Linked DNA regions of Homo sapiens: region 1 is linked to region 2. A link means that fine-mapping ties the variant in region 2 to the plasma level of a protein whose gene starts in the linked region. Region 2 holds a variant in brackets. A gene starts in the other region. All regions are shown on their forward strands.

Region 1 (10,216 bases), not on the chromosome of region 2:
AGGCGGCGAAAGGGCTTGCGCGCCCTCCCCTCCTCCACAGCCCCCCGCCCCTCGCGGGCCCGCCCCTCCAGGCGAGGCCAACCTCCGCGCCCGCCGCCCGAGCCTCAGCGGTCCGGGAGGAGCTCCCGGCGGCGCTCGGCAGAGCCCTCGGCCGGTGCCCCGCGGCCGCCGCGCTCCCAGGGCTACTGGCGCAGCGCACGGAGAACCCGGTTCTCGGCGCGGTGCGTCGTGCTGGGCCCCCGCGCCGGGCCACCTGAAGCCAGAGGATTTGGGGCGCACTGAAGGGACTGCGTCTCCCAGCTCGAACCCGGCTTAAGTGGGGCCGGGAGCGAGGTCGGGAAAGTCTCACCCGCCCAAAGCCTCACCACCGAGAGGCACTTAAAAAGGAAAGCGCAGAGGGACCCTGCCCACGCGCGTGTACACACACACCCCCCCACACACACACAAGCAAACACGAGCTCCCCGCCACTTCCTCCCCAGGGTCTCCTCAAGGCCAAATATTGCTCCCAATGACAGCCAGTCACCCCTTGGCGAACGCCTGCTAAGGCTCCGAAGAGCCGGGCCACCGATCTAGCTCCCGGCTGAAAGCAGCCGACCTTGTCACGCGCGGGGCCGGGAATGGGAGGGAGGGTGTTAGAGGGTGATCGCTGTGGGAAAGTGAGAGGGAGCGGCTGTTAGTCATTGCTCCGGGTCCATTACCGAGAATCCCCAAACCTAGTCCGCCGCTGCGTGGCCCCTCTCCCCATGCAAAGCAGACCCCCGAAGAAGCCATGCCAGGCTGAGGGACAGACGCCGGGGCTCGAAGCTCCGGGCAGATTCAGAAAGAGGCGTCGCTGCAGAAAGGACGCATCACAGTTTTCAGATCTTAATGTGGCCGAGGTTTTACAACTCCCGACCCGGCGCAGAAAGGAAATCCCACCATGTTCCCCGGAGTCGAGAAAACGGTGAACAGCTTTCGGCCTGCGCTCGACCTCTGCGTCTGCGTCTCTCTCGCCTCGGCTTCCCTTATTTTTTAAACCACCACCACACTCCTTCCCCCGCCACTTCCTTCCCCCACCCCCTTCCTCCGTTGCACCAGCAGCAGAGTCGCACGCAGCAAATACTCCTTCAAGAATTTTACCTACCTACAGTTCAAGCAGTTACTGGGATGTCCTGACTAATCGAAGATGCTGCCGCGCGCGTGGGTCGCTCTGCGCAAGGGCCTCTTCGAAAACCCGACTAGGCGCAACTCAGCGTTCAGCAGGGCCGGGAGCGCCAGGTCGTCCCCGGGGCCCGGGCCCCATGACTCCTGCCCCAAAGCCCACTCCACCCGACCTCCCTTTCCTGAGGCTGTTCCCAGTTGCTGCTTTGGGTCGCTCCGGAGCTCAAGAACTCGGGTTGCCTGCCGCCCCACTCTCCACGCACATACTTGGTTTTCTTCTTAGGGGCATTGGCAGGTAGACTTTGAGGAAGAAAAGTAAAGGATCGAACAGCTCAGCCCTCCCTCCCGACCGTGGATGCCCGGAGTCGACCAACACCTCAGGTCCGGGTGCGGAGGCCGCGGGCGCCCCTGCGCGACCGTCCGCGCCCGGCAAGAGCCGCGCGGCTTTCGCCTTTGCTGGTCCCGCGCCACCGCTGGGGCGGGCTGCGAAAGGGTTGGGAAGAGCAAAGGGTTTTTTTGTTTTGTTTTGAGACGCAGAAGCCCTTTAAAAAGCCCGGCGAGGAGAGGTCCAGAAGTAGAGAAAGCAGACGGAGGCAAGCTGTGCCCGCGGGGCAAAGGGACAGTAGAAGGGGCGGGCGCCCGGGTTCCCCGGAAAACCCTCGGCCCCAAGGAATCTCCTGGGGCGGGAGAGCGCGGTTCTAAAACCGAGAGGATAGGAAGGGGAAGGGGGAGTTGTGTTTCAATTTCGGATTCACCAGGATTCATCTCTAGTCACATTTTTCTTCTCAAATTTTTAAATCGAAAAGATAAAAGCCAAAAGAACTTTCATCCCCAGAGCTTTTTATTGGGGGAAAGGAATGTAACTCGGGGTGGTTGTCCTTCACTTCCCTACTCGAATCTTCTCCTAATGCCGAAATGTGTTTACAGGTAGCCTCAGTTTACCAAGTATGTATCTTTTGGGGGTTTAACCTCTCACAAAGCCTTCAACTCACAAACCGCGATCCTTGGAAACCATCCTCCAAAGCAGTGCTTGGAGGCCTCTAAGGCCCCCGGACCAACTCCCGCTGGAAGAAGCCTGCAGGGACTCGGGAATCACGGGAACCTTTCCCGTCGGTTCCGGGCCTGGAGGGCCAGGAAGAGCCGCGCGTCCGCCTTTCGTCCCGCCAGGAACTCCCCATAGGACACGACACCGCAGGAACAAGCGTCCTGGGAGCCCCTGGGATCTTGGCTGTCGTCTCTAGGGACCCTACACCGTGAAATGATAGAGGCGAGGTTCCTTGGGTTCCGCAAGTCGACGAAAATAGCTCGTGGAGAAGGCGCGTCCTGCAACTGCAGTTCGCAAGCTCTCAGGGCGCCCCGCCAGCTGGGGGCCAGATTGGGTGACACTCCCCTCGACGCAGCCTCCGGAGCGGCGCGCACTCTCCAGAGGCCAGCAGGACTGCGCTCTCTACCGCAGAACCTGCTCCAGCTAGGTGTTCTCTCCCCATCTCGCCGTCGCTCTGCCCCCTCACTCTCTCTGGACCTCAGAGCCGGTTCTCTCCTTCCTCCTCCCGCGCTTTCCGTCCGGGGATCGCAACCTCCAGCCCGTGGGCAACGCGTTCAGCCCAAGACCCCACAGTTTTTCCCAACGACCCCCCTACCAAGGGCTTCTCTTGTTTCTGCTCTCCTGCCCCGCACTTCCCAAAGGTGAGAATCTCCCAGGGACTGCTGGACAGAGAAGGCCTGGGCAGGGGCAGTAGCCGATATTTAAAGGTCTTTCAGCGCCAGCATCCCCACCTCCAGCACCACTATTGGAAAATAATTAGGCCACCTTTTGCCTCGGTCACAGCCTGTGACCAGCTTCTTCCCCCCAAGGAGGCTCCTAGACCCCCTCTGCCTGTCTCCCCTCACCAGGTAGCCTTGCTCACCATAGGTCCCTGCAGTAGCGGGCTCGCCAGCAGCAGCTCCTGGGGACCTCTGAACGGTTGCAGTGAACCTGGGCGAGGGCCGGGGACTGTGGCGCTGCAGGCTCGAGATAGCTTGGACGGGAATCCCATCGGGGAGACAAGCTAGATACTCAGCCGGAGCAGCAGCGGCGTCTCAGGCTCGCGTCCCTCAGCTCGGATGCCACACTCACCTAGCTTCCGGGCCGGGCTCCGCGCTCCTTCCCTCCCTCCCTCCTCCTCTGCCTTCTCGCATCTTCCTTCCTCCTCTTTCCCTCCCTCGCTTTCTTTCTTTCCTTCCTCCTCCTCTTCCCCGGCGGCCCCTCCCTCCTTCCCTCCTCCCTCGCTCGCCTCCCTTTCTGGGGATGGGAGCCCCGCCCACATCCTCCCCTCCAGCCGCCCGACCTCGCCTAGCAGGCCCGGGTCCCGGAAGCCCAGGCAGCGCCCGAGTCCGCAGCTGCCGTCGGAGCTGGGACGCCGCTGCCTCCAGCTCTGGGAAGCGGCTGGGGCTCACCTGGGGACCACGTGCGGAGGTACTAGAAAGCATGCACCGACTAGTCGCCGTACCTTCCAAAAATACCCATGGGAGTCTGGGCTTCCCTGAGTTTAGTGTAACTGCTGCCCAAACTGATGATTAAAACACTGAGTAATCACCATTTACCCTGAGTAATTAGAGATAATGAAACACCTCTAAAATCAGGTTATGGAGAAAGGAGCTGTTGGATCGGTTTAAAAGGTGGCCTTCCATAAACTGTTAAAAGATTTCCAAACGTTGAGAAACAGGCTGTGTGCAGAACTGTGTGCCAGAGAGAGATACCTCTTGGGCTGTTAAAAGGTGAATTTCCTTCCAAAACATTCTTAAAGTGCGTTTTGTAGAACACCTTGGTGATGACCCTGAGGTAGACCCCAGTAAATGAGCTCACTTCCCTCCTCCCCCCAAGGCCTAAAGACAGAGGTGGCCTGCAGACAGGCTGGGGCCACGTTTTTTACAGTTAGAAAAATCTGTTTCTAGCTCAGAAGCCGTCTTAAGAACCGACACAGCAGTTATTTTTGTTGGTGTTATGGTTGTTGTTGATTTTTTTGTTCATTTTTGGTGTACCTAAGAGTCCTGACACTCTGTCTTTCCAAGGAGATAACCACAGAAGCAGTAACCTTTTAGGCCACAGGGAGACAAGAAAAGATGCCCCTTGGTCTGTTTTTAAAGGAAGAGGGGAGATGAGGAATTGGCCCTTTCATATAAAAACATTTTAGTAATCATATTAGCAGGGAGGTGGAATGTGGTGGCTTTTAAACCTTCCCAAACAGGAACTAATTTCACACACTGCCTCTGATGGAGCTGTGAGGGAGCTATCAGCCTCATCTCTCTGTTTTACAAACAAGGAAAGGCAGGACTACCAGGTTAAAGGGACTTGCCCAGATCTCTGAAGTAAATCACAGCCTCTGCTCCAGAGCTAATGCTTCAGGGAGGGGTTGAGGCTCATAGCCTGAGCTCCAGGTAGCCAGAGGAGTGCTGGAAGACTGAGCATTTCCTGTCCTGGATTTCTTTCCCTGGGACAGACATGACACTTTACTGTCTCTGCAAAGCATTTAGGTCTTTACTTAAACAGATATTGGCCCTGGGTGGCTCATCTATAAAAACTTTACGTTTATACACCTTCGATATTTAAAAAACAAGAACTACTTCCTGTGTGGAACACAGATTACAAAGGGTGGGAAATATCTGAGATCAGAGAAGCAACTGTCAGAGCAAGGCCAAGACATCCTGCCATCTTTTCCATCTATTAGGCCTAGGTCTTTTGGCCTAATGCACCAAACAACAGAAACAAGCTGTATGGCTTTGGGCAAGTCTTTTCATTCCTATGAGTCTCAGTTTTCTCATCTGCAGAATGAAAGGATTGGGCCAGATCATCTGCATGCTCCCTTTATATTTGAAAATGATTTGATTATTTAATTGTAATTTTAGCCAAAGTCCGTCTTCCTTCATTTTAAGTCACTCCTGAGTTCACTTTCTCTAAGAACCACTGATTAAAACAGGGCAGGGCAATAACACCACCCCAAAAGGAGGACAAAATATACCTGTAGCTTCCAAATAGTCAAAATCACAATTAATTATTAAAAATAATAACAGAAAATTAAAACTCCATTAAATAGTTACCTAATGTTTCTCCTGCAGCATCAGGCATTGTGCTCCTTTAGCATGGTACCTGAAGTCAGGACAGATTAAATGCTCACTGAGCCCCTAAATCAATCACTGTTGTTTTAATCATTAACGAAATGTGGTTCTTAATATTTAAACTCAGAAACAACAGTGATATGCTGGACTTAAAGGCAGGACTTTATTTTACTTTAAAGCACCAATGTCATTTCGGGGTTTTTTTAATTCCAAAGGTTTTTGAATGACAGCTATTGTCTCATTTTGCTGCAGCCCAGACACTAAAGTGGCCACTGATTGGCCCATCCATGAGTCTGTGACACTCACAGTCCAGGAGTTTCCAATTAAGCTACCCGACATACCATGTTTAGACCCCTGATATGAATCTTCAGATATATGACGAGAGAACTCAGCTTTAGTTCTCTTGGGACAGCTTTATTTCTCTCCCCACATTTTAGATGGGCGCAAGCCATCTGTTATCAGCTGCTTTTACCCACTCCTCCTTTTCCCCCCTTACTCATGCCAAAGAACAAATTACTTGTTGGTTAGAGAGCTAAATCAACCACAGCCTAGTGATCAGAGTTCGTGAGAAGAATCAGTTTAGTTATTTTCTGTATCTCAAACTTACCTGTGAATTTTCATGTTTTTATAGAACATGGTAGATAGACCAAATGAAACTGTACCCTTAAAGCACATTGATGAAGAGGGGAAACCCACCATAATTCAGGAGCAACTATTGCTCCTATGCTGCTACTACTCAATGAAAGGCATTCCTTTGTTGGGTTTTTCCTGGAGAACATCAAGAAAGAGTAGCTGGTCAATAGCCTGTCTGCGAGCCCTTGGGACAGCCTTTTTCAAAGCATGTTCTCAGGACTATAAGCCTCAGAGTAGGGTGGGGGTGCAGATGAAATGCAGACTTCCTGGTCCTGCCCCAGATCTGGACCCAGAAATCTGTATATTTCACAAGGTTCTCTGGTCATTCTGAGCACACTAAAGCTTGAGAGCTACTGTTTTAAAAGTTATTTTGTTTCCATTTTCTATGCTGATAAGTACCATTAAAAGGCTGATACCAAGACATCATTAAACAGGCAAAGAATATGCTGGGCTTGAACTTTATAAACTGTTAAATATGGCAATTATAGTATCACTATGCCCTGAACACACCAAATAGGTCTATGCAAGTGAAAAGATAATCCTATAGATACAGTAGCCCTTAATTCCCCATCCCCAATTAAGAACCACATCAGGTCTTCAAACCTTCTTGGCCAATTAGGTGTCTGGTGAAGCTACGGAAGGAATTCCCAGAATCACTGCTAAGTTTTGAGAAGCAGTAAGATAGATCAATTGGAATTGGAATTCGAATTCGAATTGGAATTGGAAGTGGTCTCTGAAATTGGCTAGAAATTTAGTTTTCCTCTTATTAATATTTATCATATCTTATATATTTGCCCTATATATCTCTAGCCCTTACAACAACCCTTATAAAATCCCTGTCCTACAGATGAGAATCTGAAGTTTAGAGACGTTATGTAAGTTGCTCAAGGTCACAAAGCTAGAAAGTGGTGGACCCCAAGTCCAAACCATGTCAGTCTGTCTCCTCTCCCTGGGCAAGTGAGGGGTATTGTGGATGGATCCCCGAGGCTTATCCTGGAAGCTTTCCCCAGGCCAAGGCACCAGCTGCTGCTCCATCCTGGCAGCATGCTATTACCAGGAATTTCAGGATATCTTCCCAAGTTCTTAGATAACAAAACAAAATCAAGACCTAGAAGTTTGTTTCTTCCTGACGTTACTATATAAGCCCGCCTTAGGGCAAGACTTTTATGTGACCTTTCCTGAGAAAAAGGTTATGATCTTGAGAAAGGAGCTCATTATCTCTGCTGGGTCCAAGTTTCCTCATTGTAAAATGTGGAGCTTGAACAGGGTCCTCACAGGTCTTTCTCAGGCTCTGGAATACAGAGACAATATATCCTGGTAGTTAAAATCACAGTCAAATTGCTTAATCTCCAATGTCCACTCATTATGCTTTGTCTATATAGATCTGACCCATGAACATAGCTGTGCCAAGATAACTACTCACTGTCAAAATCATACCTACTCTGAGCAATTAGTTTTTACTAATAGGCTGAGACTGAATGACATGTCCAAAAAGCATTCTCCGTCTGTTTTGCGGATTCCTAACACCTCTAACTTTTAAGAATTTTTTTTCCTGTCCCTCAAGCTAAAACATAAACTCATTTTCTTTATTCTGATCTAAAGATGAACTTTTAACCCAATTGCACAAGTTGTTCCTTCTCTAAACATTTAATATTGTTGCCAACCTTTGATATGCCTCACTCAAAGTAAATAATACTGGATGCTGATATTTTCTCATGACAAAAAGAAAATCCAATGCTATTTCAGTTCCCTATGTTTTAAATTGCTGCCTTGATACTTTCTGGAATATGGTCCTTTCTATAAAAACCCTTCAATATTAACATCCAAGCCAGGTGCGGTGGCTCACACCTGTAATCCCAGCACTTTGGGAGGCCAAGGCAGGTGGATACCGAGGTCAGGAGATCGAGACCATCCTGGCTAACATGGTGAAAACCCATCTTAACTAAAAATATAAAAAATTAGCCAGGCATGGTGGCGGGCGCCTGTAGTCCCAGCTACTCGGAAGGCTGAGGCAGGAGAATGGCGTGAACCCAGGAGGCGGAGCTTGCAGTGAGCTGAGATCACGCCACTGCACTCCAGCCTGGGCGACAGAGTGAGACTCTGTCTCAAAAACAACAACAAAAACAACAACAAACAAACAAAAATCCAAAATGGACAGAGACTTCTAAATGAACCCCCAGTGATATCAGACAGATGAAAAGACTGTTTTTATGTCATAACATGTTTAACGTGGATGGCAGACAGGGCATGGATATGAAAAGTCTTTTCTAAGGAATGATCAGGATGGGATTGGCATGCAATGACAGATATTTGGGTTTTGACTATTCTCAGCTTCCTCTCCTAAAAAAATAGTCGACTGCACTCATTTAATTCTACAACAGGGATGCTCTTTGAAAATAAATTATTTTAGAGGATATAAAAAAGATTAAACCTTGAAATTTCTTTGTTTTGTGCTCATACATCCTTCTCCTTCTCTTTTTCTGACCCCAGTGTGTGGGAACAGTGTAACCTGAACAAGAACGTAGTGTCTATAGGATGAGTGACACTTGGAAGCAGAGGCAGAGTGCTACATGGACACCTGACTGTACCAAATGGTTATTGTGTTTTCTCAATCAGACGCCAATTGCGGAATACCAGCTGATATTCTACCCTCAACTCATGCTAAAAGCTTTCTAGTCTTTCTCAAGGAAACCTGTCCAAAGGGATATGTGATCCCAGGAATTATTATTGTATAAGTAATACTTGGATGTTTTTACTAATAGTTCACACATTTCACAGCCCTTTGGTGGAGAGCCTTTTTCGTTAATGTTCTGTTCAAGAATAATTGCATAGTATTTATAATCCTCTCAGGGATTAAGTATAGATGTAATACACAACTCAAAGATGCTTGTTGATGTTCACTTTGTAAAAATTCATCAAGTTGTATACTTGATATTTGTGCACTTTCTGTGTTACATATTTTTTAATTAAATACTTATAGAAACTATGCTTTTGAAATGATTTTTTTAAAGTTATTTTCTTTGACCATTAGTTGAAGCCTACTAGCAACACACAATGTTTGGAGCCAAATGGTTAGGCAGGGCAAAACCAGGGGGAGCCTAATCTTTGGTCCTCTGGTGGCCACAGCACCTGAGAAACTGAACTGTGGCTTCAGGAAATCCACTCTGGGGCCACAGAAGAAAGAACAGTTGTACCAACCAAGGCCTGGCCTCTGGGGACCAGTACAGCCCATAGCAGAAGGCAAGATGTCTGACACAATCCTGGCACGTTCCTTAAACTCATGGGAGGGCTGGTAACCACTGGACCAGAACAGAAGCTCCTGGAGGCATCTGAGACTTGTGCTCAGCTCTTTCCTTCCTTGGCTTCTCTTGCTAAGAAGCTCAGACTGGCACTGCAAACCATCAATCTCTGGGGCGAAATGGCAAGGTCATCAGATATGCATTTCTTAGGATAGAAATGCAGGAAGGTAAAACTTCATCCAAAACAGATAACAGTTTAAGAGAAAGATATGGGCTCCACCCCCAAATTCTGGGAGCCCTGGGCTTAGGAGATGGGCTGGGGAAAGGATTGTGATAGAGAAAATGGGACTCCCAAGTGACTGTCTTGGTCCCTCACCACAGCTGAATCCCAGCCTTGATGCAGAGAGATGGAGCTAAGTGCATGTGGCCGGACTTTGGCCCTTTTCAGAATCTTGCAACCACAGGGCCAGGCTCAGAGATTGTGCAAACTCAGTTTCAAGGAGTCAGAGAAATCAAGACAGGTGTTGAGAGCCTGGGCTGCAAGTAAAGTATGAGGTGAAGGGTTGAAGGAGGGAGTCCTGCTCTTGAGGAGCAGCCCAGATGGACACTCCGCTCACCTCCTCCAGGCAGAAGAAGAACAAGGTGTGCACGCGGGGAAGTTCGGAGTCCCTCCTTGTCTTTCTAGACTGCAGCTGCGACAACATGCTGGGGACACGAGGCTCACCAGCCCCAGTACCTCCCCACCCCTCCTCGAGCCAGCTAAGCAGGACAACTTTCCAGCTCCTTATCCGCATTCCCTCCCTGATCAGGGGCAGACTGTACTTCCCCGATGTCCGCTAACTAACGTAAAGAAACGTCCGCGTGCTCCGCTGATACCCCAGGGCCACCGGAGGAGAGCAGTGGGGTGTGAGAACTAGGCTGTGTCCAGTGGCTGGTGGTGGGGGGAGCGGCTACTGCGCCTTCCCCTTGGGCACTCCTCTCGGGTCCCTGAGGCGACGCCCTAGTAAGCCTCCACGCACGTCAGCGAAGGGTGGGTGGAGGGTCACCCTGACCGCGCCCCACAGCTGGCTCCCGCGCTCTGCCCACCGCCACGCCACCTTCACCGCGC
Region 2 (10,736 bases):
GATAAGGTCATAAATGACGAATCACTTGTAACTGGAGGCCGAGTCTCCGTGTGTTTTCCAATTTGTGATCTCATTGTATTCTCACAGCCCCCGCCTCCTGCCAACACCATGTCTTGTGGGAGGATACGGAGAAACTGGGATTGGTCTCCCCAATTTCCAGATGGGAAAATTGAGCTTGGGAGAGACTGAGTGACTTATTTAGGTCACCCTGCAGTTAATGCCATGGCTGGGGCTTCTCCCTTCCAGCCCAAGGGTTTTTGCAGGAGTCCAGTGGCATGTTTAGGTTGTTCCTGCTACAAGGAAAAGAGAGCCCCTGAGGTACTGTGGGGACAGTGAGGGAGCACAGAAGGACTTCTCCGGTGGCATGGCCTTTTGATGGCAGTGTCTACACTGCAGCCCTGCTGGCCTGGTGGCTCCTCAGTGCCCTCCAAAGTAGCAGCAGCCCTAGCTCCTTCCCCAGCCTCACGCCAGGTCTGCTGCTCTTTCCTTCACACTTGTTGGGTCTCCCACTTAAACCCCAAAGAGAAAGGATCTGTTTGCTAGACCAGTATTTTGGATGCAAGGGGCACAGACTCTCTCAGGGCACCTTGGGAGTAGTTCTGGGGGACCTGTGTGGCCTGGAACTGGGGAAGGCTCAGACACCAAGGCAGCCCTCTGTGTGCTTTGTCCCCTCCACTCCCATTGGCCCAGTGCTCTGAGCCGGCCCCAGGCCAGATCCCTGGAGGGAGCACAGTGAGTTCATCACCTCACTGGCAGACTCTTCCCAGGGGCCTCCTCAGGCTCTGGGGGCCTGTGAGCTGGGACTCTCCCCACCTCTGGCTGGTCAGTGGCCTGCGCTGGGCAAAGACCTGCCCACACTGCTTCCGTGAAAGGGAATGGGGAGCCGTTTCATGAGAACAAAATATTAGGGAAGGCATGACTGCCAACATGGTTTGTGCCCTCAGGTTAGGTTTTGACTCTACTTACCCTCAGTGTTCCAGAGCCGGGCTGCCTCACAGAGCACACGCCTCTCTTAGGTCCAGCCCAGAGATGTGGCCTTTGCTCAGGTGTGGCTAGGGTGGAAGGGTCATCTCAAAATGACAATCATATGTTCAGAGTGGCCATTTTCATCCGATGGGGCTGTGCACGGAGGGGGCCTTCTAAGGCATGGAGAGCTCTCTGTGGCAGATGGATCTCCAGAGTCTGTGAGCAGAGTGGAACAGCTGGCTACTCCCTGGGCCCAGGGTCAGGGCCCTGTCAGCCCACAAGGTGTGTGATGGATGTGGAGACTTAGGCAAGCATTGCATCATGGTGTTCTGGAAAGTTCTGGGCAGCAAGCAGGGAGGTGTAGATGCGGGGATGTGCCCCTGGGGGCATGGGGGAATAGTTGGAGTGGATGTGCAGGCTCCACCTTGAATGAACCCACTGCAGAGAAGAATTCACCGTGATGCCAGAAAAAGAGGAGAAAGGAACACAGGTCCTCACCGAGGGTGAGCCTGGGGTGTCTACAGAAAGAACTCAGATGGGCACTTCCCAGGGGTTGTTGTGAGGGACCAGCACGGACAGGTGCCCTTGAGGGAGGTCAGGTGGCTTCACATCTACTGACCACTATGCCCCTCCCCTCCAGAGACCCTGATGGAGCCTGTGTGAGGGCGGGGAGGAAGACGACCGCTCTTGCTTTATTTTCCCACTCCAGGAGTGGGCATTTGTGTGTGGTCTGATGAATTCATGAGGAGGGCTAGGGAGGACTACTAGAAGCTACCCAATAGGGAGCAGCAGGGCTTCCCCATGAGCTCTGCGAGGGCAGGGTCTACCTATGTAATGTGTCCGGGTACGCCACCGAACCCAACCAAAAGCAAGGCACTGCAGCGGAATTGCGCGTTTCCGGTCCCAGGGCCTCCAGCGCCCTCTCAGCTCTCCTCCATGGTGGCATCCGGGACAGGAGACATTCCAGGAGCACATGACTAGCCTCCTACAGGCCTGTCCCCACTGACTCGGAGGCAACCCGGGGCCTCCTGAGGCAACATGGGGAGGCTCCGGCCCCAACTTTGCTGATGACAAAGTTCCGTGAGCCTCGGGTTCCTCAGCTGTAAGCTGGGAAACTGTGTTCCATTCTGTGAATTTATGTGAATGCACAGGAGAGCTCTGTGCACACAAGTGGGTGTTGCCATTAGCCTGGAAAGCAGGGGCCTGCCTGTCCAGTTCAGCTTTGTGAACCCAGTGTGTGGCACACAGTAGGTGCTCAGTAAAGCTTTTCTCAATAAACTGACAATGAAAAAGGAGCATTCTGAGAAACATTAATTATGGTCATTCCATCAGCCCGCAGACAGGGAGGCCCAGAGGCCTGGTGGAAATGGCATGAGGCCAGCAGACCCGTGTGGAGGGACCTGGGGCAAGGCTCAACAACTTGGGCCTTAGTTTTCTCATGTGTCCAATAAAAGGGTTGGACAAGGTGAGCTTTTGGGTTCCTTCCTGGCTCTGAGGTCCTGAGGATTTGCTGTGGGGGTGACCATATGCCCACCCCCATCTGGGTCTATAATGATCATGGAACCACGCTCCTGGCCCTGCCCTCCTCCCCGCAGGCTTTCCTTCTTCGTCTTGGCACTTTCATTTGCAGGAGTTTAAATGCTGCTTTGGTCTTCTTTCATACATTTGTGTCCTTCCCCCAACCCATTTTGAGAGTTCCCTGTGGGCAGTGCTGTCTCCTCAATCCACCTTATCGCCAAGACTGTCTTCCTCCTGACATCGCACATCCTCCCTCTCCCCCTCATCAGTTTGGGACAAGCCCCATCTTCACGAGGGTCTCTCCCCTGGATCCCACCTAAGGCTGTGGCTGCCCCGTCCCCTGGGGGAAGAGGGCAGAGTGACATGTCTGCTGACAGACTGATGGCCCATGCTCCAAGGGGAGCAGGCCAGCAGCCGCAAAGGTGCAGTCTGTGCCAGGTGGGCCTTGCCAGCCAGAGCTATTTTTAGAAGCCATGTTTGCAGAGTTTGTGTTAATAGTGTCTCTGTCCAAGCTCTGGCTCCCAGGTCTTAGGGAGGGGGAGAGCCTTAGAGAAATCCTCCCTCCCGCCTTGTTCTCCTCCTCACAGGTGGCTGGGATCAGTGGGGGACTCCTATCCAGGTCGAAGCCCTCCCAGCCAGCCATCTGCAGACACAGGGCAAATAGGGGCTGGGGGGCTAGCTCGAGGGAGGAAGAGAGGCACAGAGCTGAGGCTACCAGAGAACCAGTCTCAGAAGGGAGGCAGGACCCCCAGCCACAGGACACTCCATCGGTGCCATGTCACTGGATGGACACTGTCAGCCGCCTTATCAGTCACCTCCTTAGGCAGTGAGCCTGGGCCCCCATCGGGCTTCTGTATTTCTCTGACCATGCCCACTCTCATCCCAAGACCTCCAGCCAGGCCTTGACTGAGCTCTGATCTGGAGGCACCAGAGGAAATACTCCCCAGTGCACCTTCCTGGGCCTGTTTATGAAGGGAGGGACCTGGTAGCTGAGAGGGGGGCAAGCTGATACAGTCTCGTCCTCAGGGCTCTGAGTCAGACAGAAAGGGCCAATGCCTTGAGTGCACCATTACCACTGTGATGGGTATGAAGAAGTGATGGGTGCTGGGAGGGTATAACTTGCTCTGAGCTGAGAACTGAAGGATGAGTGGGAATCTCAGTGAAAAGTGAGTGAAAGACAGAACCACAGGGTGGGTGCAAGTGCAAAGGCCACTAAGATTTGGTGATTCAATGACTATAGAAGCCAGGAGATTCTTCCAAACATGGGGGCTCCCAAGGAAGAAGCTCCTATCTTTTCTTGGTTCCCACCCATCCACAGAGACCTACTCCTCTGCCAGCACTGGCAATACTCGGACCCCACCCCCAATGCCCAGTGCAGCCCAGAAAAGGCTTTCCTTTCAGGGCAGTGCCACTCCCGCACACTGAGGGACCCTAATGGCCCAAGCTGGAAGGAAGCTCAGAGGGCCCCCACTGGTTCAGTCTAAGGCTCCGCTTCAGTACCCCGGCGATGGGAGTTCACTCTCAAAGCGCAGCTTGATAGGCAGTGAGCGGGCTCTGAGCAGGAACATTCTCCCCGATACACCCACCTCCTGTGACCCAGCTGCCCCGAACCCTGCTCTCCCTCTGCTGGACTTTAGGCCTTGCTCTTTCCTTTAAACCCGTGAGACCTTGGGCAAGGTGTTCAACCTCCCTGGGCCTCATCTGTAAAATGGGGATATTAATAGAGCCGGGAGGATGACATAAAACCAAGTGGGAGAAGCCTCGGTCCAGGCCCTGGAATACAGTAAGCGCCCAATAAGCGTTCATTCCTAGTGACACCGCTATCATCCTGTGAGAGAAAGGGAAGCTGAGGCCCTAGTGGGCAGGGCTTTGCCCAGGGTGGCCCTGGGTAGCGAGCGCGGCCGGGCGGGCGCCGTGGCCTCAGGGGCCCTCCCCGGGCTGGGCACCCCCACGCCGCCCGGGCACTGCTCGCGGCCGCGCTTTACAAGCGAAAACAAACACGGCCACAAGCAGCCCCTGTGCGACGCGGCCCCGCGCCCGCCAGCGCCGCCGCCGCCCGGTCAAAGCCGGCTTTGTGCCCGTCCCGCCGCCCCCGCGGCCCAGGCGATTTTAATTAGCGTCTGGGTCTGCGCCGGGAGATGGGAATCAAAGCCCCCGTTCTTCCAGCGCCCCCACCGCGGCCCCCACCGCGGCCC[C/G]CGCCTCTCGGATCCCCGCGGCTCCGCGCACCCCTGCTGGCAACCGCGGGAAGTGGAGCCCTCCAGGGGCAGCTGTTTGGAGTTCGAATCTCGCCTTTTACAGCAGAGGAACCTGGGGCAAGTTACTGACGCTCTGAGCCTCCGTTTCCCCATTATTAATAGCGCTAGCCGGAGCCAGCCCTTAGAGTATTGCTGGGAGGTTTACATAAGAAACAAAAGGTCAGCAGGTATTCTAGTCCTGGGGCAAGGGACAGAAAGCCTTTCTGGGGGCAGGGGGCTGCGTCTTAGGTGAGGTTGAGGAGGGGTCCCCCGGTACACAGGAAAAGGCAGCCCAGGCAGAGGCAACGGGGGAGTAAAACTCAGGTGCGTTGCCTTCTCTGGAGCTGGACCCGGGAACCCGGGCAGGGGAGGCCGACTTCCACCTGTGTGACGGGGAGCCACGGGAGGGGTTTGAGCTGGGCCGTGAGAAAGCCAGCTTTGCTTTTTGGAAAGTTCACTTGGGCTGCTGTGTAAAGGAGGGGTTGAAGGGCTGAGGCTGGAGGCAGTGACTTGATGAGGCCTGAGTTGGGCTGAGGCACCCCCAGAGGAAGGGGCAGGAGGAGGCCCTCACAGGTAAGGCTGCATCATGGGCAGCGTTCTCCCACTGAGGTTGGGATCCTTACACCCTTGAGGGTTTCTTGAAGGATACTCTGGCCCTGAGTCACCAGGGTGCTTGTTTAAAAAGGCCAGTTGATGGCCCCACCTCACATCTGCTGAATCGGAACCCTTGGGCTTGGGGCCTTGGAATCCACAGCCTCATGCTGATTCTGTTACATGAATGAGGATGAATGAGCCATAAACTAGGAAAAGTATAATCGCTGGTCCCCATACTCCCAGCACCAGGACTGAAGTGAGACATTTGTTCCCATCACTGGGCCTTGTTACCCTCACAGGCCCGCATGTCTCCCAATGGGCCTCAGTTTCCTCACTCATAAAATGGTCATGACCTCACATCAACCCTTCCTCCTAGGGATATGGGAAAATCACAGGTGCCCTTGAGTGGGAAATGCCATCAGAGGCAGGAAGACCCCTAAACAGTCCTGTCTTCCACACACTGCATTCACCCTCTTAAAGGCATTTTTGTGCATGACTGCTGCTGCTCAGCACCCTTTGAGAGCTCCCTGTGGGCAGAGGAGTGGGGTCACTGGAGTGTGGCTCCCCACTGTCTTCAGAATAAAGCTCTGACCCCTCAGCCTCGTGTTCCAAATTGGGACCTGGCTACATCTCCAGTCTCCTTTCTCAGTGCCCCCAAAACTACCCTCCACCCCTGTTCAATCCCAAACACCTGTGCTTTCCTGCAGCTTTGACTTTGCTTAACCTGTCCCCTCCTTGGAAATATACTTTCTCCCCTCCCTCTCCCCCATTTTCAAATAGCTATATGTTGTTATTTCTCTATGACTGTGCCCCACCCTGCCCCAGTAGGGGTGCTCTTTGTCTCCTGTGAACTCCTTCCGTACTCTCTAGTCCTCTGCTAAAGCACTGACTGCCTTCTACACTGGTTAAGATCTTGGGTTTTTGATGTGAAGACAATCTGGCTGTGACATCTGTCACCTCAATGATCACAGGGTTGATTTGGCCGGTCTGGCTGGCTAGGCGGGTGTCCCCTTCCTCCCTCACCACTCCAGTGCATCCCTCCTGAAGCTGCATGCTTGGTCAAAGAGGATGACCTTCCTGATACAGGAGGACCATCCCTCTGTCAAGGGTATATGAGGAGCTATGCTCCCCTACTAGAACCTCCAAACAAGCTCTAAAGATCTTGGGTCTTGGAGATTTATAAATCTAGTTTGTGGCCCTGACTCCAGTACTGTGTGACCTTGAAAAAGTTCCTTAACCTCTCTGAGCTTCCATTTCCTCCTTGTATTTTCAAGGAAATTTGGGGACATAAGGAAGGGAAAGTATTTGGAGCAGTGTCTGGGCAGTGCAGAGTAACAGATAAGAGTGCAGGCTCCTTCTTGAAAGGGGAAATGGGTGAAAAAAAAAAAAAGGAGTGCAGGCTCTGAACTACAGTGCATGGGTTTGAAACCACACTCCGCGTTCACTCACTGGCAGTATGATCTTGGGTAGCATTACTAAACTCTTCTTTGCCTCAGTTTCCTCAACTGTACAATTTGGATAATAATAGTGTGGCAGACAGACCCTAGTATGGCACCCATAATGTTCACACCCTGTATTATCCCCAGTTTTTGAGTGTGAACAAGACCTGTGATTTGCTTCTGACCGCTGGAACACGGCAAAGGTGAAGAGATTTTGCAGATGTAATTAGGGTTCCAAATTATTACATTCTGAGTTACTCAAAAGGGAGATTATGCTGAGTGGGCCTGATTTAGTCAGGGAAAATTCCTTAAAAGAGGAACTGTACCCTCCCTGGAGTCAGAGACTCTGAGTTCTGATTTTGAAGAAGTAAGCTGTTGTGCTACAAGAAGGCCTAGGAGAAGGCCACGTGGCAAGACTGTGGGTCACCTCTAGGAACTGAAAGTGGACCCTGGCTGACAGCCAGCAAGAATACCAGGGCTTCAATCCTGCAACTGCAAGGAGGTGAATTTTTCCAGCTTAAGGGAACTTGGGAGTGGATCTTTCCCCAGTCAAGCTTCTGATGAGACTGCAGCTCTAACTGATGCCTGGATTGTAGGCTGGTGAGACCCTGAAGCAGAGAACTGTCTGTTCCCAGGCTTCTGACCTACAGAAGCTGTGAGACAATAAATATGCTAAATTTGTGGTAATTTGTTACTCAGCATACAAAATTAATACAGTGTCCACCTTATAGGGTTCTAATGAAGATTAAATGGGGTCACGGAGGTAATCAAAGCCTTGGCCTAGTGCCTGGCTCATGGGAGATGCTCAGTAATTGGTAGTAATTAGCTGCCAATGCTATTATGTTTAGGATGTAGCACTTTACAAAGTTATGTTTTTAATCATCAGCTTATTAGCACGTTTGAACAAATGATAGGTTTTGCAGGCAGGAAACCTACATCTGAAACATAGCAAAATTGCTATTAGACCTTTACCTTGCTGGGCCTGTGTCTGTTAGAATGCATTAGGCTGCAAGTACAGAACACCTGACTAACAGTGGCTGTCTTAGGTTGGGATTCTTAGAAACAGAAGTTGAGATGAGAAGATGAGTTGAAAGTGATGTCTTAGGAAGTGTTTCCAAGACAAACCAGTAGTAGGGGTGTGGAGAAGTGGGAAGGGAAGAAGGCAAGGCAAGGGTGTGATTCAGGCCAAGTCCCGCAGAGGGGAGCTTGACTCAGACTTGCAGAGGAGCTCCGGAGATCGTGCAATCACTCCTCAGAGTCATCCACATCAGCACAAGGGAGCTGGAGGATTGGCACCTCCATACTCATCTGTCTGAGCTAAGGGCCACCTGGGGTGGAGCGGAGGTGGACATTGTCAGGCTCTTCTGGTTTTCCATGCTCACTGGCAAAGTGGGCTCAGGCAGCCTAAGGTCAGTGTTCTGACAAAGAGAAGCAGGTGCTGGCTGTTGGGAATGAAAGCTCACTGGAGCTGGTATGTATGACAATGGTAAAGGGATAACAGGCATTGTGATTGGGTCAATGGCAGTGCCGCTACAGTGGCATAAACTGCAAGGACATCTGTTATTTTCTTAACAAGAAATGTGGAGGTATGTGGTCTCCAGACTGCTTCAGTGTAGGTCATCAAGGTCATTGAGGACTCAGCTCAGGACAGCCTTCCTCAGCATCCTGGCTTTTATCATTCTCAGCCTCATGGCCACAAGATGGCTGCTGCAGCACCAGGGCTCATGTCCTTAACTGATAGCATTTGAGTCTGGAAGAAAAGGGAGGGCTGCAGCAAAAAAACCTTTCGCCTCACATGACCCTCCCCTACAGAAGGAAAATCTTCCCTGCTCACTCCACCAGCCCTGGTTCATGTCATCAGTGCGTGTGAAAGGGCTTTATATCCTGCGAAACACAACAATGCTAATTTTAATTGCTATTGAAATCCATGCTTTTTCTTCCCCTTTGCACTGTGAGGGGCTGTGTGTGACTCACCGTGGCTTCTGTTGATTCTGCCCTCTAAATAGCTGGCAATCCCACCCACTTCTCTCCCTCTCTGTTGCCACACCCTCATCCAGACTGCCACCATCTCTGTCACTGGTAGCTGCAATAACTTATTAATACTAACTGATTGCCCTGCTTCCATTCTTGACTCCTTCCAAGTCTTTCTCCCACAGAAGCCTCAGGGATCTTTGTAAAACACAAATCTGTCTGAGTCACTCCCCTGCTGGAAATCGTTCCAGGCTCAAAAATAGGGGAGATATTCAGAATAACTACTGATTTGGAATAGGCCCTGGGCAATCAGGATAGGCCCCAGTGTTGACAGCCCTGCCAGCCCATCCTTCCTGAATATCAGCCCTGTTCTGGTGGCCCTGGGGAAATTGACCTCTGCTGCCTCTCCAGGCTTCTCTCTAAAGCCCGTGCCCCTCACCCCCACTTCCTGCACCACCTACATCCACTGCCCGATACTACTCTCTTGCCAGGCTGAACTTTTTGCTGCTTCCCAGATGTTTAACATACAGTAGGTGCTCAATCAATGGTTGTTGAGCTCTGGAATGATCACTGCTACCATTGTTACTCCCATTACCACTGCCACCACCACCATTACTGCCTCCACCACCACCAGTACCACCCCTCCGATTTGCAGGACCCAGGCAAGAGTGCAAATGGAGACTACATATCATAATATGTAATAGATCATATGTGATATGACATGGAGTCTCCATTTGTATCCTTGCCTGTCACCACTTTTGCCTGTTGTGAGGCCTCTGACCTCCCTGTTTCCTAGGACTGAAACACGATTTCTCCACTTTCCCTGAATAATTGCTTAACGTCTCTATTTGGATGTCTCCTCATCCAGGAAGCTTCCTCTGACACCCCTCTCCCCGCTCCCTGGCCATGGGTTCTCACAGCCACCCCTGTGCCTTCTTCTGTGTTTGTCACTCTGTTGTCATTGTTTATGTCTCTCCCTCTCTAGACTGGAGACTTTTGAGGATGCAGTTGGACACAGAGGACAATTACATCCCCTGTGCTGGTAGTAGCAGGGAGCCATGGTGGTAAAGGAGGGCAGGACCACCTTTAAGCCCAGGAAAGAGGGACCCCCACCCTGGGCCATGCCCTCTGGAGGGCCCCAGTCTGACCCACTTTCAGCTGCACTCCTACCCACAGCCCAAGGGGTCCATGGGATTGAGGGTATGTGCACCCCACCTCCTCTCTAGACCACAGTGGGGACCTAGGATCCTGGAATTCTCTGCCCAAGCAGCCCTGAGTCTGCTTCTTGGACTGCACAGTCCTCTTCCCTAGGTCTGTTCTCTACACCTGAGGGATAGTTTGCTGGGGCTCTGGAAGAAATTTGGAAAAGTTCCATTTGCTTTTGCTGCATAATGAATTACCCCAGAATTTGGCAACTTAAACAACTTTTTTTTTTTCTTTCCTTTTCTTTTTTGAGACAGGATCTTGTTCTGTTGTCCAGGCTAGGGTGCACTGGCATGATCATAGCTCACTGCAGCCTTGACCTCCCAGGTTCAAGCAATCCTCCTACCTCAGCTTCCTGAATAGCTGGGACTACAGACGTGTGCCACCATGACCAGGTAACTTGTTATTTTTTGTAGAGACAGGGTCTCGCTATGTTGCCCAGGCTAGTCTTAAACTCCTGGACTCAAATGATCCTCCCGCCTCAGCTTCCCAAAGTGCTGGGTTTACAGGTGTGAGCCACCACGCCCAGCAACAACTGTTTTCTAATCCTCATGAATTCTGTGGGTCAGCAACTTGGGGATGGCATGGTGGGAATGGTTTGTCTCTGTTCCACAATGTCTGGGGTCTCAGCTGGGGAGACTCCAAGCTGGGTGCTGGATTCCTCTGGAGGGGTCTTTATGTTCATATCTGCTTATTGTTTCTGATAGTTGGCCCAGAGCTCAGCTGGGGCTGTTGAGTGGAGCATATACGTGTGTCACCTATGTCGTCTTGGCTTCCTCACAGCATGGTGGCCTCATAGTGGTTGGACTTT

Direction of the effects. Positions count from the first base shown, and alleles are read on the strand shown. Strength reflects both the effect of a copy and how common the allele is.
In carriers of allele G in region 2, the plasma level of the protein whose gene starts at base 3,324 in region 1 tends to be lower than with C alone (weak association).

The links. PIP is the posterior inclusion probability: the model's chance that the variant is causal. The UK Biobank Pharma Proteomics Project read protein levels with antibody pairs (Olink). The fine-mapping took linkage between variants from a reference panel, not from the people measured, so its PIPs are less certain.
Region 1: BMP4 starts here. The variant in region 2 is fine-mapped to the plasma level of the BMP4 protein (UK Biobank, PIP above 0.99).

Annotation. Positions count from the first base shown.
Region 1 is chr14:53,953,502-53,963,717 of GRCh38, forward strand. It overlaps BMP4 (bone morphogenetic protein 4), which reads right to left and starts at 3,324. Exons shown (of 4, transcript NM_001202.6): 1 at 3,049-3,324. LOC124903317 reads left to right here and starts at 681. Exons shown (of 2, transcript XM_047432035.1): 1 at 681-2,827; 2 at 8,360-8,855. The coding sequence starts at 2,400. The coding sequence ends at 8,408. RefSeq lists silencers at 39-108, 159-248, 2,448-2,557, 3,207-3,286 and promoters at 255-755, 927-2,222, 927-1,247, 3,150-5,268, 3,150-4,492.
Region 2 is chr11:74,678,990-74,689,725 of GRCh38, forward strand. It overlaps the pseudogene RN7SKP297. Among named protein-coding and RNA genes, the nearest start is that of MIR4696, 36 kb to the right of the region's middle. The variant C/G (reference allele first, on the strand shown) is at 4,680.